2 separate regions of the Homo sapiens genome follow, and region 1 is linked to region 2. The links come from fine-mapping of genetic effects on gene expression. A gene starts in region 2. The other region holds a variant in brackets. All regions are shown on one strand. Distances are from middle to middle. Region 1 has its middle 45 kb from the start of FURIN. Region 2 holds the start of FURIN (furin, paired basic amino acid cleaving enzyme).

What was found. PIP is the estimated chance that this variant, and not a neighbour inherited with it, causes the effect. A credible set is the group of variants that fine-mapping cannot tell apart.
Region 1: its variant is the best candidate, but not a certain one, in a credible set for the expression of FURIN in whole blood (INTERVAL, PIP 0.58).

The regions. Positions count from the first base shown.
Region 1 is chr15:90,819,227-90,827,549 of GRCh38, forward strand. No RefSeq gene overlaps it. Among named protein-coding and RNA genes, the nearest start is that of FURIN, 45 kb to the right of the region's middle. RefSeq lists an enhancer at 6,359-6,958. The variant C/T (reference allele first, on the strand shown) is at 4,035.
Region 2 is chr15:90,864,883-90,873,205 of GRCh38, forward strand. It overlaps FURIN (furin, paired basic amino acid cleaving enzyme), which reads left to right and starts at 3,706. Exons shown (of 16, transcript NM_002569.4): 1 at 3,706-3,829. RefSeq lists enhancers at 4,238-5,437, 4,680-4,729, 4,797-5,091, 4,830-4,939, 4,877-5,171 and 2 more and silencers at 6,448-6,657, 6,698-7,337.

The DNA of each region.
Region 1 (8,323 bases), 46 kb before region 2:
AGGGTTCGGTGACGCCTGGGAAGGTGCCGGGTTCCACGGCCCCACAGAGGGTTCGGTGACGCCTGGGAAGGTGCCGGGATCCACGGCCCCACAGAGGGTTCGGTGACGCCTGGGAAGGTGCCGGGTTCCACGGCCCCACAGAGGGTTCGGTGACGCCTGGGAAGGTGCCGGGATCCACGGCCCCACAGAGGGTTCGGTGACGCCTGGGAAGGTGCCAGGATGGCACTCTGATGGTCTCTAGGCTCAGATCTATTCAGGATGTGGGAGTTCACCCCAGAGAGCCTGTCTGTCCCCATGGGTCCCACACACAGGGCCTGTCACACACACAGGCCACAGGCATCTGCCTGTCCTGGCCCCATCTACTCAGTCCCTGCCAGGAGCCACAAGGCCCCATGAAGGTCAGGCCCTGGCACTATGCCTGGGCCAGGAGTGGAGCAGAGAGCTCAGGTCCCTGCTTCCTGTAGGGAAGACTTTCCTTGGTAGGATAGAACCTGGAGCAGGGACTCTTGGGGTGGGAGGTGGCAATGGTGCCCCGGGAACTGCTGATGCGGAGTAAGGGTCTGAAGAGCCACCACTACCAGATCTGAAACCCCCGCCTAGAAGGAAGGACATCAGAGACACTGAGAGACTCCTGGACTTCTGCCCAGAGCCCTGCTCGGGCTCAGAGAGGGGTGGCCCCCTGCGCTGTGGCCCCCACCACTGTGGGAGCGTTGAGACGCTGTGACAGGGAGGCAGTTAACACTGCTAACCTCAAAGATGAACTCAGCAGTCAGCACCAGGGAGATCGGAGGTCAGCCCACGCCAGCCCCACCACAGACACCCGCCTGCATGGCTGGATGTGCATATAAGGACAGAGACCCGTGCGGCCACCGTCGCCACCAGGTCCCTTGCACCCAGTGAGAGCCAGTCTGGAATGGGCGGGACCTGGCCCCTTCCTCAGCCATGGAGTGCCCTTGGCAAGTTCTGTGGCCTCTCAGAGTCCCAGTGTCTCATCTGCACCATCAACATGCCACTTGGTCCTGGCCTCCGGGGCTGCTGCAGCATCCTTTTGGTCAGATATTCCACAAACATTTCTTAACCAGAGCAGAGCTCCAGGCATGGTTCAGCCTTCAACCAGGGCACAGGCAGGGAGGGAAACGCCCCGGGGGAAGGAGAGAGCAGTGTTGGAGTAAGTGGGGTGAGGGTGAAGACCCCAGGGCACCTGGGCCAGCAGGAGTTGGGGAGGGTGCCCAGGAGGCTGAAACGGCCAAGTGACCTCCAGGCTGACCATCCCAGTGTCCAGCCACCCCCGCTGAAGCCACCCTGTGCTCTCCTTTGTGGTCCCTCCTCACCTAGGAAGAGCAGAAAGGACACAGCACCCACCCGCGGGACCCCTTTCCTGAGCAGAAAGTGCCCTGTGCCAGCCTGGCCACCGCCTCACTGTGAGGATATGCACACTCTAGGCTGGGCCACCTGGCTGTATGAGCCCCAGCCCAGCGAGCGGCACAATGGGGATGACCCCAGCACACCTGCCAGGACCCCTGCCCCACAGGGCCTGCCACTCCCTCCACAGGCCTCAGCTTAGGGTCTGTACCTTTGCCCCAGATCTGGGTTCCAGCCCCAGGGACTTGGCACACAGCCGGTGCCTAATAACAGCTTGTTGGATGGATAGATGAGCGGATGGGCGGGTGAGTGGGTGAAGGGGCGCTGCGAAGACATCTGTCTCATTGCCTTCTCATGGGAGGATAAGATAGGAGGAGGAGACGGGGCCTCAGGCTGGCAGGGCCTTAAAATCCTGCAGCCCCACGGCCAGCACCAGGCAGTGGGGACGGAGCCCCAGGTCACTGAAGGCTCCCTTGTTACTTCTGCTGGCTTCATCTGGACAAACAGAAGCCGCTTTCCAGCTGGCTTCAGCAGTTTTCACTTAGATTTTCTTCTTTTTTTTTTTTTTTTTTGAGACAGAGTCTCACTCTGTCACCCAGGCCAGAATGCAGTGGCGTGGTGGCATGATCTTGGCTCACTGCAACCTCCGCCTCCTGGGTTCAAGTGATTCTCCTGCCAGGTAGCTGGGATTACAGGCGTGCACCACCACATCTGGCTAATTTTTGTATTTTTAGTAGAGACAGGGTTTCACCATGGGGGCCAGGCTGGTCTCACACTCCCCACCTCAGGTGATCTGCCCGCCTCAGCCTCCCAAAGTGCTGGGATTACAGACGGGAGTCACCATGCCCAGCCTAGGTTTTCTTTTCCTTTCTGTTTTTTATTTTCGTTGCTGTTGTTGTTGTTTGAGATAGTCTTGCTCTGTGGCCCAAGCTGGAGTGCAATGGTGGGATTCTGGCTCACTGCAACCCCCGCCTCCTGGGTTCAAGCAATTCTCCTGCCTCAGCCTCTCGAGTAGCTGGGACTACAGGCGCGGGCCACCACACCCGGCTAATTTTTTGTATTTTTAGTAGAGATGGGTTTTCACCATGTTGGCCAGGCTGGTCTTGAACTCCTGACCTCTCAGGTGATCCACCCGCCTCGGCCTCCCCAAGTGCTGGGATTACAGGTGTGAGCCACCGTGCCTGGCCTAGGTTTTCTTTTGCTTGTGTACCAATGTTTTTGGCTGGTTGGCGTCTTGTTTGTGCTGAAATAGCAAGCCAGTTTTCCTCACTTTGGAGCTGCATTGTCTATCATGTGAAGATGTTCATAACCACCAGTGTCTGCTTCTAGCTCTTTCCTATCCTTTGTTTCTGGAGTTTACTTGTGTGTGAGGAAGGCTTTTGTGGGGACCAAGGTACATGGAGCAGTTGGGAGGTGAAAGTTTGTCACTGGGTCCTACCTGTGCAGAACGTCAGTCCCAGCCGAGAAAGCAAGGGCCAGGGCAGTAGTTCTCAAACTTGTGTTAGCCTCAGTCACCTGGAGAGCTGGTTGTGCCATGGCTTCCGATGCAGCAAGTCTGGAGTGCGCCCCAGAGGTGTGCATTTCCACCGGGTCTCCTGGTGGTCCCGATGCTGCCAGCCCCAGGTGAATACAAACCACAGCTGCCGAGAATTTTAGCACTGAGGTCTTGGGCAAGGCATTCTCCTCTCCTTCATCCTTGGTTTCCCATCTGCAAAAGTGAGGGAGTAGGGTGCAGTGGCTCACACCTGTAATCTCAGCACTTTGGGAGGCCAAGGTGGGAGGATCACCTGAGCCTAGGAGTCTGACACCAGCCTGGGCAACATAGCAAGACCCCGGTCTCTACAAAAAAATTTAAAAATTAGCCCAGCTGGTAATGTGCTTCTATAGTCCCAGCTACTCAGGAGGCTGAGGCAGGAGGATCTCTTGAGCCTGGGGAAGTTGAGGCTGCTGTGAGCCGTAAGCCATGACCATACCACTGCACGCCAGCTTGGGCAACAGAGTGAGACCCTGTCTCAAAAAAAAAAAGTGAGGGCATTAGACTCCGTGATGGCTGTCACCTCCATCCTCAAGTTGGACAAGACTGTCGGGGTGGGCTGGGGATCTGTGGGAGGGAGGGTGTTTGAGAATGTGGAAGTGGAACAGCCTTGCACGGGAGCTGTTTTCAGGAAAGGGACTCATGACAAAGCCAGGGTTCTAAGCCCCTTCCAACACCAAAGGGCCTCTTAGAGAGAGACTCAGAACTTAAAGGGAGACTCGGCAACCAGGAAGCAAGTAGCAAAGCATCACTCCAAGCAGGCATTTTGCAGTGTATGAGAGGCAAAGGAAACCTCCTTTAAAACTCTGGAAACAAGCATAAACTGATATTTCCCAGGCCCTGCCAGCCTGGGAGTCAAATGAGGTCATGTTACCACCCAAATCTGCCTGAGAACAGAGTCCTGTCTCCCTGCCGGGCCAGGCAAATGCCACTTCAAGATACAGTCCGTTGAGAACCCCTAGACTGGGACCTTAAGCTGCAACGTGTGATGAAGGCTTTCTAGAAAAATGCAATTGCAGGGTTGGTCTAGAGCCCGCTTTTCTTGCCTGGGCCCCAGCAGGATCCAGTGGCCTGAGCGGGGAACAGATTCAAGTCCCAGAACAGGATGGGGGACAGCCTCACCTACCAATTTCCTTTC[C/T]ATTCTTTTTTTTTTTTTTTTTTTTTGGAGACAGGCTTTCGCTCTGTCACCCAGGCTGGAGTGCAATGGCGCGACCTTGGCTCACTGCAACCCCTGCCTCCTGGGTTCAAGCGATTCATGTACCTCAGCCTTCCAAGTAGCTGGGACTACAGGTGCCAGCCACCACGCCCAGCTAATTTTTGTATTTTTAGTAGCGACAGAGTTTCACCATGTTGGCCAGGCTGGTCTTGAACTCCTCACCTCAGGTGATCTGCCCGCCTCAGCATCCCAAAGTGCTGGGATTACAAGCATGAGCCACCATGCCAGGCCTGCAATTTCTTAGACTATTGAATGGCCCTGGAGTCAGATTGCTTGGGGTCAAAGGCCACTTTTACCACCTGCTGTGTGACCTTCAGCCCTTGAGCAAGTTATTTAACTTCTCTGTGCCTCAGGGAGCTCATAACAGCACTATACTGTGGGGTGGTGCCAGATCTGTCTCATAGACCCTGGCCAACGGATGAAATGAGTTCTCAGACACAGGCATACAGCATAAGAGCAGCTGGGTGACTGCCTGGCTCAAGTGGCCAGAGAGCAGCCCCAAGAAGCTGGAGCTGCTTGCTTTTATTCAGTGCAGGCACAATGTGGAAAACCTGGAGCCGACACGACCTGCAGGTAACTGACAATTACTGTGGCCAGGCACGGTGGCTCACGCCTCTAATCCCAGCACTTTGGAAGGTCAAGGCAGGTGGATCATGAGGTCAGGAGTTCAAGACCAGCCTGGCCAAGATGGTGAAACCCCGTCTCTACCAAAAATACAAAAATTAGCTGGGAGTGGTGGCACGCACCTGTAATCCCAGCTACTCGGGAGGCTGAGGCAGGAGAATTGCTTGAATCCTGCCGGGGTAGAGGTTGCAGTGAGCAGAGACAGTGATACTGCACTTAAGCCTGGGTGACAGAGTGAGACTCTATCTCAAAAAAAAAAAAAAGGTATTGTTCCCCTTTCAGGGAACCTCACACCCGCATGATCAAAGGTCAGTTCCTGGACAACATAAACAAACAAGCCTTTTAAGATAAATTCCCCCACACTCCCTTGTACCTACTCCTTGCCCTCTGCCTCAGGGTTATAGAACAGCTGCCTTCAGTTATTCTCCCCCAGGGCTCTGCAAAACCTTCTGACCTTTCGGAAGGTTTGCATCCTTTCCCTATAGTTTTTCCCACCACTCTGACAGATCCCCCACAGGGTCGACTGGGGGATTATGAAGACTAATAGGATAATGCCTGCTCAGCCCATAACGGAGTGTCTGGATCTCAGTGAAGGTTATTGTACTGTAATACGTAGACACTATATGTACTCATTGTTTGCCGCATATATTTGTGCAGAAGTTGATTGGTGAATAAACAGGACATCGTTTTCACTCAGTGGGTCTCAGCCATTCTCAAACTAATCCTTTTATGGAATCAGTCTCAAAAAAAGAAGCCTTCTTCAGGCATGGCTACACCCAGCTATCCAATCATAATGTAAGCATCCAGGTTTTGGAGCTCTAGAAATTGGCAGAACAGGTAGACAACACCCCATAATATAGGTCTCAATCCAGGCTCTAGGAACCCCTGGAAAATCCTGAAATAGATGTCAGAGGGTATCTAAACCCCTCAAGTGCATGTATTATTCTTGTGTGTCTCTGCAGATTTCTGGGAAAGGGACCACCATCTTTCTCAGGTTGTCAAAGGAGCCAGCAACCCCCGAAAGTTGTAAGATTCTGCCTCAGGGAAGATGATGCAGGCCTCAGCAGGTGCCCTCAACAGCACAGACACTCCCAGGGACACCCCGGGCACCCCAGGCACCAAAGCACTGGGGCAAAGATGAGAGTGGCTCACTCCACATCTCCTTTGCTGAGAGCCAAGCCCTCTCCAAAGCCAAGAGAAAACAACAAAATCGGACGGCAGTGCACACTCAGAAGCATGAAACCCTGGCGAGGAAGCATCATTACAATTAGCCGTGACGACAGGCTGCCTATGATCTTAGGACGCACAGTGGTTCTGCGTCATCACAGACAGCAAGGGGTTCAGGAGGCGGCCGGTCGGCAGCGGACAGGACATGGTGAGAGGTGACAGCGTGCTGGCAGCCCTTGCAGCCCTCGCTCGCTCTCGGTGCCTCCTCGGCCTTGGCGCCCACTCTGGCCGTGCTTGAGGAGCCCTTCAGCCCACCGCTGCACTGTGGGAGCCCCTTTCTGGGCTGGCCAAGGCCGGAGCCGGCTCCCTCAGCTTGCTGGGAGGTGTGGAGGGAGAGGTGCGGGCTGCGCGCGGCGCTTGCGGGCCAACGCAAGTTCCTGGTGGGCGTGGACTCGGCTGGCCCAGCACTCGGAGAGGCCGGCCGGCCAGCCCGCAAGCCCGGGGCAGTGAGGGGCTTAGCACCTGGGCCAGCATTTGCTGTGCTCGATTTCTCGCCAGGCCTTAGCTGCTTCCCCGCAGGGCAGGGCTTGGGACCTGCAGCCCGCCATGCCTGAGCCTCCTCCCCCTCCCCACCGTGGGCTCCTGCGAGGCCCGAGCCTCCCAGACGAGCGCTGCTCCCTGCTCCATGGCGCCCAGTCCCATTGACCGCCCAAGGGCTGAGGAGTGTGGGCGTACAGCGCGGGACTGGCAAGCAGCTCCACCTGAGGCCCCGTGGGGGATCCACTGGGTGAAGCCAGCTGGGCTCCTGAGTCTGGTGGGGACTTGGAGAATCTTTATGTCTAGCTAAGGGGTTGTAAATGCACCAATCAGCACTCTGTATCTAGCTGAAGGTTTGTAAACACACCAATCGGCACCCTCTGCCTAGCTCAGGGTTTGTGAATGCACCAGTCGGCACTCTGTATCTAGTTAATCTGGTGGGGACTTGGAGAATCTTTATGTCTAGCTAAGGGATTGTGAATGCACCAATTGGCACTCTGTATCTAGCTCAAGGTTTGTAAATGCACCAATCAGCACTCTATATCTAGCTCAGGGTTTGTAAATACACCAATGGACACTCTGTATCTAGCTAATCTAGTGGGGACGTGGAGAACTTTTGTGTCTAGCTCAGGGATTGTAAACGCACCAATCAGCACCCTGTCAAAACGGACCAATCAGCTCTCTGTAAAATGGACCAATCAGCAGGATGCGGGTGGGGCCAGATAAAAGAATAAAAGCGGGCTGCCGAAGCCAGCCGTGGTTGCCTTACACACTATGCAAGCTTTGCTGTTTGCAGTAAAACTGGCTGCTGCTTGCTCTTTGGGTCCACACTGACTTTATGAGCTGTAGCACTCACCATGAAGGTTTGTAGCTTTACTCTTGAAGCCAGTGAGATTAAAAACCCACCGGGAGGAACAAACAACTCCAGTACGCGCCGCCTTAGGAGCTGTAACACTCACGGCGAAGGTCTGCAGCTTCACTCCTGAGCCAGCCGCACCACGAACCTATCAGAAGGAAGAAACTCCGAACACATCCGAACGTCAGGAACAAACTCCGGCCACGCCGCCTTTAAGAACTGTAGAACTCGCTACAGCACTCACCGTGAAGGTCTGCGATTTCATTCTTGAAGTCAGTGAGACCAAGAACCCACCAAGTCCGGACACAATGGGACCTGTATGCAGTCTATGGGGCAGTTCAGACCAAAGGGCTGGGCGTGGCACCACAGCTGCCCCGAGCCCTTGGCCTCTCTGAGCTTTTCTCTCTCACCTGAGAAATGGGATTTCAAGGAAAATGAGTAGCGGTAACTTACCCACCTTACTCCACGGTTACTGTGAAGCGCCCAGAAGAGAAGCCATGGATGTGGGCGACGCATTCGAGGTTAGCTTCAGAAGCAGCGGGCGCTGGGTAGCCACATTGACACCCGGTACTAGCGCTTCCTCCTGGGGGTTCCTGGGTCCAAGGGGGTTGTGGCAGTCCTTGCCACAGAGATGCAGAGTCTGCAATGTCCAAATGTGCTTCGTGTGCAGTGGGAGCCTGGCAAGCTGTAACCCTTGTCGTGATTCACGCGTCCCAGGGACACTTGGGGGCCGCTGTGGGCAACCCCCCACACCCCGCTTTTGGTCAGGGCTGTGCCAGCAGAAGGCTGGGGCTGGACAATAGAGGGGATGTTGGGGCCGGGTGGGAGGCGGGAAAGGAGAAGGAGGGAAGTTTAGCAAGGAAAGAGCAGAAACGTCCCAGAGAAATTAAATTTCAGTTTTGTGGTGAACAGCTGGATCCTTTTTCCCATATCCTCACCAAAAAATTCCAATACTATCTTTGTCACCTTGTGTCATGGATCTATTTTGAGCTCTCTCGCGGTTCCTGAGCTCCTGTGTTTAGAGTGC
Region 2 (8,323 bases):
TGGGCGTGGTAGCACATGCCTCTAATCCCAGCTACTCGGGGAGGCTGAGGCAGAGGCTGCAGTGAGCTGAGACCGCACCACTGCACTCCAGCCTGGGTGACAAGAGTGACACTGTCTCAAAAAAAAAAAAAGTCACTGGACTCCCCCAAGCCAGTCCCCTACATTTCACATCAGGAGGGTCACCTATGGTGCCTCCTGCGTCGGGCTGTGGTGGGTTCCCACACGAACCCCCATATCTCTACTCCCCATGGTAGTCAGAGGAGCCTTTAAAAAGGGTAAATTTGCCGGGCACGGTGGCTCACGCCTGTAATCCCAGCACCTCTGGAGGGGGAGGCAGGAGGATTGCTTGAGGCCAGTCTGGGCAACAGAGTGAGAGCCCATCTTTTAAATTAAATTTAAAAATATAAAAATAAAATGGCTGGGCGCGGTGGCTCACGCCTGTAATCCCAGCACTTTGGGAGGCTGAGGCAGGTGGACTGACTGAGGTCAGGAGTTCGAGACCAGTCTGGCCAACATGGTGAAACCCTGTCTCTACTAAAAATACAAAAAAATTAGCCGGGTGTGGTGGTGTGTGCCTGTAATCCCAGCTACTCGGGAGGCTGAGGCAGGGGAATTGCTTGAGCCAGGGAGGTGGAGGTTGCAGTGAGCCGAGATTGCGCCACTGCACTCCAGCCTGGACGACAGAGCAAGACTCCATCTCTAAATAAATAAATAAATAATTTTTATTAAAGGGTAAATCAGTCAAATTTCCAAAAGAATTTTGAGAATCCAGAGCCCATTGCTCTGATAATTAAATTCAACATCTGGACCCAGCTTGGCAAGTGCTCTGTGATCCAGCCCGTTACCTACCTCTCATCTCATCTCTCGGCCATGCTCCAAGAAGTGTCTGCTCCCCAAGTGCATAAGCTCATGCCCCCAGGCCCATGTCCTTGCCTCTCCCTCTGCCTGGGACACTCTTCCTCCAGATCTTTACACTTTTGCCTCTTTTTTCAGCCTCAGCTCAAACATCACCTCCTCCCAGAGGTCTTCCCTGACCACCCCAGGGATAGCAGCCCTCCCGCTTCCCCAGGCACTCCCACATTACCTTCTTTATCATTTTCTTCCAGAGCTCTTAGGATGATCTGAACTTCTCTCATAAACTGGCTTATTCACCTGTGAACTGCCTGCTTCCCTCGCTATAACTGAAGCACTGGAAGAGGTCCTGCACCCAGCAGGCACTCAATGAGTATCTGAGGAATGAGTGAATGAAATGCCCAGTGCACAATCAACCTCCACAAAAGCAGTTTTTCTTTTCACATATAACTCATCGCTATCACAGCCCCTCTCCTTGCTCACCCGCCTCGCTGAGGGGCTCCTGAGAACCTCCGTAGAGGTCTCCATCAGCCAAAAAGCATCTGCACCGTCAGAGAGGGCCCCTCACTGCCGCTCGCAGTGCTCCCTGCTGCCACGTGCAGCCCCTTGAGCATGAGCCTGTTGACACAGGTTGGCACACGGTGTCTGGCTTCTGTAAATGCTCTCTGCTCCCAGGTGTGCCGTGCCCCATTGAAGGACAGCACTCACACTCCTCCAGGTATTAACTGACTTTTTCCCCAGCAATGTTTGTTTTAGGGATTAAAGTTTGTGGAGGAGCCTATAATTTCCAGACTCATCTGTTCCTTTCCTGGCAGCCAGCACATTTGTCATTCTATTTTTCCCAAGTCCCTGATAATACCGTTCCAGACATGTTGATTTGATGGCATCAGTCAACGGAAAGACTCTCTGGGGCCTGCCGTAGGCCAGAGGACAGGCTCTCCGGGCCACACTCAGGGGCGACTGAGCCAACTCTTCACGCCATTCCTTTCCTTCCCTGCCTAGGACGACCTTACAGCCCATGATCGCTTTTCTTCTTCTTCTTCTGTTTGTTTTTTCTTCCTGTTTTCTTTTTAAGTACTACAGTGACCCCTTATTTATTCAGCAAAGAAATGGACTACTCCACAGTAGTGAATTTTCAAAATAATGCCCTTCAAGCACTAAAACTTTAAACAACACATCTTCAAAACAGCTTTGCTGAGGTATAACTGACACACTATAAACGGCATGGATTTAAAGTGTACAACTTGATATGTTTTGATATATGGACACACCCATGAAACCATCACCACAATCAAGATAATGAACATGTCCATCATTCCCAAAAGTTTCCTCCCGCCCCTCCCTGCCCCCTTCCCCAAGCAAGCACTGATCTGTTTTCCAAATACGTCTTTAATGCTACAAGGGCTCACACACCTCCCCACCTTAGAAAATGGAGTATGATCAACATGATTGATCCTTTCCTTGATTCAGCATTATCACCAACACGATGGAAAGTGATCTCAGATGTCATGAGGATGCATGATTGTTTGCCCTGATCACTAAACGGCCCATTGTTGTGCTGGCATACTGGGCAGTTTCAAGTTTGGGAGTTTTCTCCCTCACTGCTAGCTGTCTCAGAGCTTAGTTCCCAGCAGACAACTCTTGCTGCCTCGAACCCTGGCACACTAACCACCATCCTGTGACGTTCCCACTCCTCATTCTGCGACAGTGGTTCTTTGCTGGGAGAGATTTTTGTCTCCCAAGGGACATTTGGCAATACCTGGAGATCTTTTTGGTTGTCATCATGGGAGCGGGAATGCTACTAGCAGCTAATGTTTAGTGACTAGGGATGCGACTGAACATCCTGCAATGTAGAGTGCAGTGTCCCCTACAGAGAATTATCCGACCCAAGATGTTGATAATGCCAAGGTTGAGAAACCCTGTTCAGGATGACAAACTGATTGAAAACTCAACAAGGGGACCGGGCGTGGTGGCTCACGCCTAATAATCCCAGCACTTAGGGAGGCCGAGGTGGGTGTATCACTTAAGGTCAGGAGTGCGAGACCAGCCTGGCCAACATGGCAAAACCCCATCTCTACTAAAAATACAAAAAAAAAAAAAAAAAATACGAGTGGCGTAAGCCTGTAATCCCAGCTACTTGGGAGGCTGAAGCATGAGAATCGCCTGAACCCAGAAGGCAGAGGTTGCAGTGAGCTGTGATCAGGCCATTGCATTCCAGCCTGGGCAACAGAGCGAGACTCTTGTCTAGAAAAAAAAAAAACAAACCCATAAAACAAACAAACAAAAAAAACTATGAGGATTGAGTGATTCACATTTCTGAATCGAGAGAGAGAAGGATGGGCAGCAGGCTTGTTGAAGCTGGAAGGCCAGGGAGGTCGCAGACTGAGGAAGACCCTGGTGTGTCCCAGGTACCTCCATGCAACCCTACTAGAGAGGTGGTCTCTGGCTTCCTATGGACAAGCTCTAAGGGACCCAGCTATGGGGCACCAGAGCCCAGCGTTCAGCAGCTGCTCAATGAATGTCTGCCAGGCGAGACTGCACCCAAAGCATTTATTAGGTACATAATTGTGGCAGCACTGGCTGGCCATGGAAGGCAAGGCAGAACACAAGGAGCTGGAGCTGGCGGAAGGAAGTCATTAAGTCAGCCAGTGGCTGGGATGCAGCAAAGCCAGGCAGAAGGTAAGTGCAGACCCACCCCAATAAATGAGGAAAATGAGAAGGGCTGGCTGGCCATGTTAGGATCCAGTTCCAGTGCGACCAGATATGTCACCACCACATCACTTTTAGCTCCTCCCCCCACCCACAGACACCCTGTTTGCCTGTCATATAAAGAAGGTTTTCCCAAAGTGGTTTAGCCAGAACTGGAAGGGCCCCGCCCTGTGAAGGGATAGGAGCCTGACTGTTGCAGCTGCAGTGAGTGGCGGGGAAGCAGCAGCGGCCAGGATGAATCCCAGGTGCTCTGGAGCTGGATGGTGAAGTATGGACATGCTTTATTCGATTTTGCATTGACTTAAAGGTTTAATTATTTTAGGAGTTCTTGTAGACATTCCTGAAAAATGCAGGTAGGCAAAAAGAAGAAAACAAAGATCGCAAATGTGACCCTTTCATTCGGAGAGAACACCAATGGAATTTTGTTGTGCACCCTTCTATGCACGTCTGAATGTTGTGTAGACATTCTGCTTACAACTAGGTGTGGGTGCTGCTGCCGAAGGCTTTATTTGCTGTGCCTGAGGTGGACCAGAGATTTCAGAGAAGACTCCCAGAGCACCCCAAGGAGACAACAGGAGTGCTTGGAGTCAGGATGACTGGGTGGATTTAGGACTATGTGATTCTCAGGAGCCTCTCTGGATTAGCCCCAAATCAAGGATAAAGAGAGGCCTAGCTGGACTCTTCCTCCCAGAGCCCTGCTGGGAAAATGGAGCCCCTTTACAGCCCCCACTTACCCATCAGGCCCTGCTCCTCTCACTCATCTCCAGACTTCTGTCACATGCCCAAGTCCTGCTAACTGCTGTGTAAAACTGGTAAGGTGGGATCCAGAGGACCTTGGGCCCCTAGGGCCCCAGGTCAGGAGACCTGGGCTCCAGGGCCAGTTGAGAGTGATAAAGAGAACAATACCTGCCCACAGGACTTGTTGCAATGAGATAAAGGCAGAAGTCACCAGTTGTGGTCAAATGGGATTTTTTTCCAGAGAAGTCTCACAGAGAGTGGCTTTCAAATTCTTTTTAGCAGCAGAATTGTTGTAAAATACAATCTCATGTGAAACCCTAAAATGTGAGACACTCTGGGTGAAGCAGAGAGAGGTGCTCAACTGCCCAATCCTGTCCTCATTCCTCCCTCTCAGGGAGGCACCTCTGAGAACCCACTTTAAAGAATTTTGCCTTATGCAGATTGAAGAGGCAAGCTGGCTGGAAGAAACTGGGAAGCTCCACTTCCCACCGCCTCTGCCTGGGTGGCAGTCATCTGAGCCTAGGCTAGCCCCTCCCCCTCCAAAGACCCACTGCGGGCTCCCCTGGGGCCAGTCTCCAGGATGGGTGGGGCACCTGAAGCAGCAAGTATTGCTATTTTTCTGGGCTGACCTTTCTTCTAGGCCTGAGGACAAGTGGGTAGGTGGGGCCAGCCCTGTCCCTGTTTCCCCTCAATGGAGTTCTCTTGCTCACAGCCTAAGGAAGAAGCGTGAGTCACTTCCTGCCTCAGTCTGACTGCTGGAGTATTGTTCTCCCAACTGTGGCTGGCGCTACCCAGTGTGGCCCCTACAAGTCTTAGTTCCTTGGCGGAGGGGAAGTCCCCACTTTGGGACAAGGCCAACTGGACTTATCTTCCCGCTCAACTTTGAGGACCCAGCATTGTTCCTCCAGTTTCCAGTTCTTGCAGTGTTTGTAAAGGTGCCCGAATCGTACCTGATCCCATTCACTAAATATTATCTCCATTTTATAGAGGGGTAAATTGAGGAAGTCCCTGAGAAATTAACTTGTCTAAGGTGTCCCAGCAAAAAATAGTGCCCCAGGGATTTGAACCGGTTTGCTGATTGATTTTTCACCAGTTGCCTTAAGAATTATCATGATTTAACCTCTCTGGGCCTCAGTTTCCTCCTCTATAAAATGCAGACAGTGATACATCAAAGGTACTTAAAGGAAAATGTACTGTACCCACCTCATGGGGCATGTGGTGAGGATAAAACGGGTTGACACAGGAAAAGAGCTCTCAATGGTGCCTGGCTCATAGAAAACACTCAGTGGATTTTTTTTTTCCCATTACCCGGGAACCTGTGTTAAGGAGGCCACAGGCTGATCCTGTGCAGCCAGGTTATCTCACAGGGAGCGAGAAGAGATGGGCACAGGCTACTCTGCGACCTTGGAATAACCCAGCCTGGGAAGCTCCTGGCCACATTTTCCTTCTTTTCTTTCTCAGCTCAAGCAGCGTCGGCCTCAGCCAAGTAGCACAAACGTTTTCTAGGGCCCAGGGAGGGAGAGGCTCCGGCTGGTATATTGCAAGTAGCTTGGATTCAGGCTCTGCCAAACACCCCAGTCTCTTGCAGGATCTGAGGTCTGCTGGTTGTGGGACTTTGCGCAAATTATTTAAACGTTGTGCGCCTCAGTTTCCTTATCTGTAAAATGGGATTAATAATCTCAGCCTGAAAGGATTATGTGGATTAAATCATGTACATAAGAAGGAGATAATGTAAAGTGACTGGCCTGGTGCCTGGCAAGCGGTTGGTGTCTAAAAAGAAAAAAAAGCTAAAAATATTAAAAGGAGGTGGGCTACTTCTGCTCATATATCCACCTGTCTATACAAATGCAGACGAAGTCGTGACTCCTCTAACAGTAGGCCAAGAGGAGGCTGGTCCTGCCGCCGTGCAGTCCTCCCTCGACCTGGGAGTGGAGGACCCCAGGTCCGCCGTCCCTGGGCACTTAACCCGGTCAGGCTCAAATTCGTCGCCCAGGAGTGGGGAAGCGGGGGACGGAGAGGGCCAGTCCCCCAAGAGTCCGGCTGAGGCAGGGCTCGGAGTGCCTCCCCCAAGCCTTTCCCTTTGGTTCCGAGTTCGGGTCTCCGCGGCCGTCTTCCCGGGGAGCTCGCGGGGCGAAGAGCCGAGCCCGGGGGCGGGGGCACGGCAGCGGGGCCTGAGGGACGCGCCGGGCGGCCGCGAGGACTTTGGGATCGCCTGCCCCACTTCCTACCTGCCCCTACCAGGAGCCGGAGGCAGCGGGCGCCCCAGAAGGCCCCGCAGGGCCGCCGCGCGGGGCCGGACGCGCTGGGGCCCACGGCGCTGGGAACGCGGGCCCGCAGTCGGGCCCGGGCGGCATGGGCGGCCGAGGGGCGCCCGAGCCGCCGCGGCGGTCGCCTGGAAAAGTTTCCCCGCCAGGGCTCCCCAGGGTAAGTAGCGAGGGCGCGGGGCCCGGGGCCCGGGGAAGGCAAGCGCGTCTGGGAGCCGGGCCCGAGGGGAGCCGGCCGGGCCGGGCCGTGGAGCTCTGCCCCAGGAGCGGGCTCCGCGGCCCGGGTGCTCGGGCCGGGGAGGGTCGGGGCACTGGCGCCGGTGCAGCCCTGACCCGGGTCCCCCGGGGCCCGGCTGCCCGCCGGCTTTCCGGAACTGGCCCCGGGGCCGGCCCCGAGGGTGGAGCTGCCGGGAGCAGACAGGGCGCTCCGCAGCCCACCTGAGCGCGCCGGGCCCGTCTCGGCCCCCCGGCCGTGGCTGGTACTTTTCCGCGTGGGGCCAGGGCGAGCCCTCTGACCTCAGGAAGCGCCTGCGGGGCCCCTGCTGGGGGCGGGATGGGGAGAAAATTCCGCAGGCGCCGGGTGCTCCAGCCTCCCCGCCGCCACCGGGGCTGCCGCCGGCTCGCCCACTCCGCGGCCGAGGAGGGCCTGCGTTCCGCCCGGGGAGGGGAGGAGCGGCCGGGGGCGAGGCGGGGGCTCCTTCGCTTGGGCCTCGCCCCCGCCCGCACACCTGTGCGGCCAGGACTCGGGTGCGGGATCCGCGGGCGCCGGCGGCCGGCGCAGGTAGGTCCCTGGGCTGCCTTCTGCCGCGGCCTGGCCGAGGCCCCTGTGCCCCCGCTGTGTGGCTGGACCAAGGGGCGGCCTGCTTGCCAGACAGGTCTGACGGCAGTCACTTGTCTGGTCAGAACCCGCTTTCCCATCATCCTCTACCCCCTGGCCCCTGGGGTGCAGACCCTCATCCACCGGAGAGTGTTGGGATTCCTATTCTGACTTGGGAAGTGCGAGGAGAACCCGGGTGATATGGCCTGGTGAGGGCGGGTGCTGAGCAGGTGTGGACACAGCATAGGAGATTAGCCAAGCCTGACCTCTTCTCAAGCAGGGCAGCCCTCGTTTTACTATTTCCTATATTGGGCTTCTACGGAGCATTTGATTTTTAAAAAGGATTCTGTGGCTTTTTAAAAAGTTTGAAAGCCGCTGGTCCAGCAGTTTTTACCACCAAGGAAACTGAGGCCCAGGGAGAGGAAGTGACTTGTTAAGATCATCCAGCAAATAGTGGGCAGGGACTGGGAGCGATAAATTCACGGGAGCCTCCCAGGGCTGGTAACAGGACCCCGCGTGGTGTCTCTGCTAGAGGGAGAGACTGATTGGGTGTCCGAGTGGCCCTCCCGTGGCCTGCTCTGTGGCTGTGTCAGAGCCAGACCCCCAGTGTCTGGGAAACAGCAGTCGGTCCTGGGGTGAGGCGCAATTTGAGTGGCCCAGAGTGGCTCTCTGTGTCAGGAGGTTCTGGTGCTGGAGAAAAGGGCTTTGCCCAAGAACACAGCCAGGAAGAGCACCCACAGCTCTCTCTGGCCACAGCCTGGAACAGAGTCCCATGTGAAACAAGACCATGAGAAATACAGCAAGCCTCCAGGTTTGAGACAAACTGGGACTAGAGGGTGAGTCAGAGTCTGGGATGGGGGTGGGGAGAAACCCATTCATTCATTGTTTTCAGTTCTTACTCTTTTCGGGGATCCTCCCTTGTCCCACATGCTGTGGCAGAGCC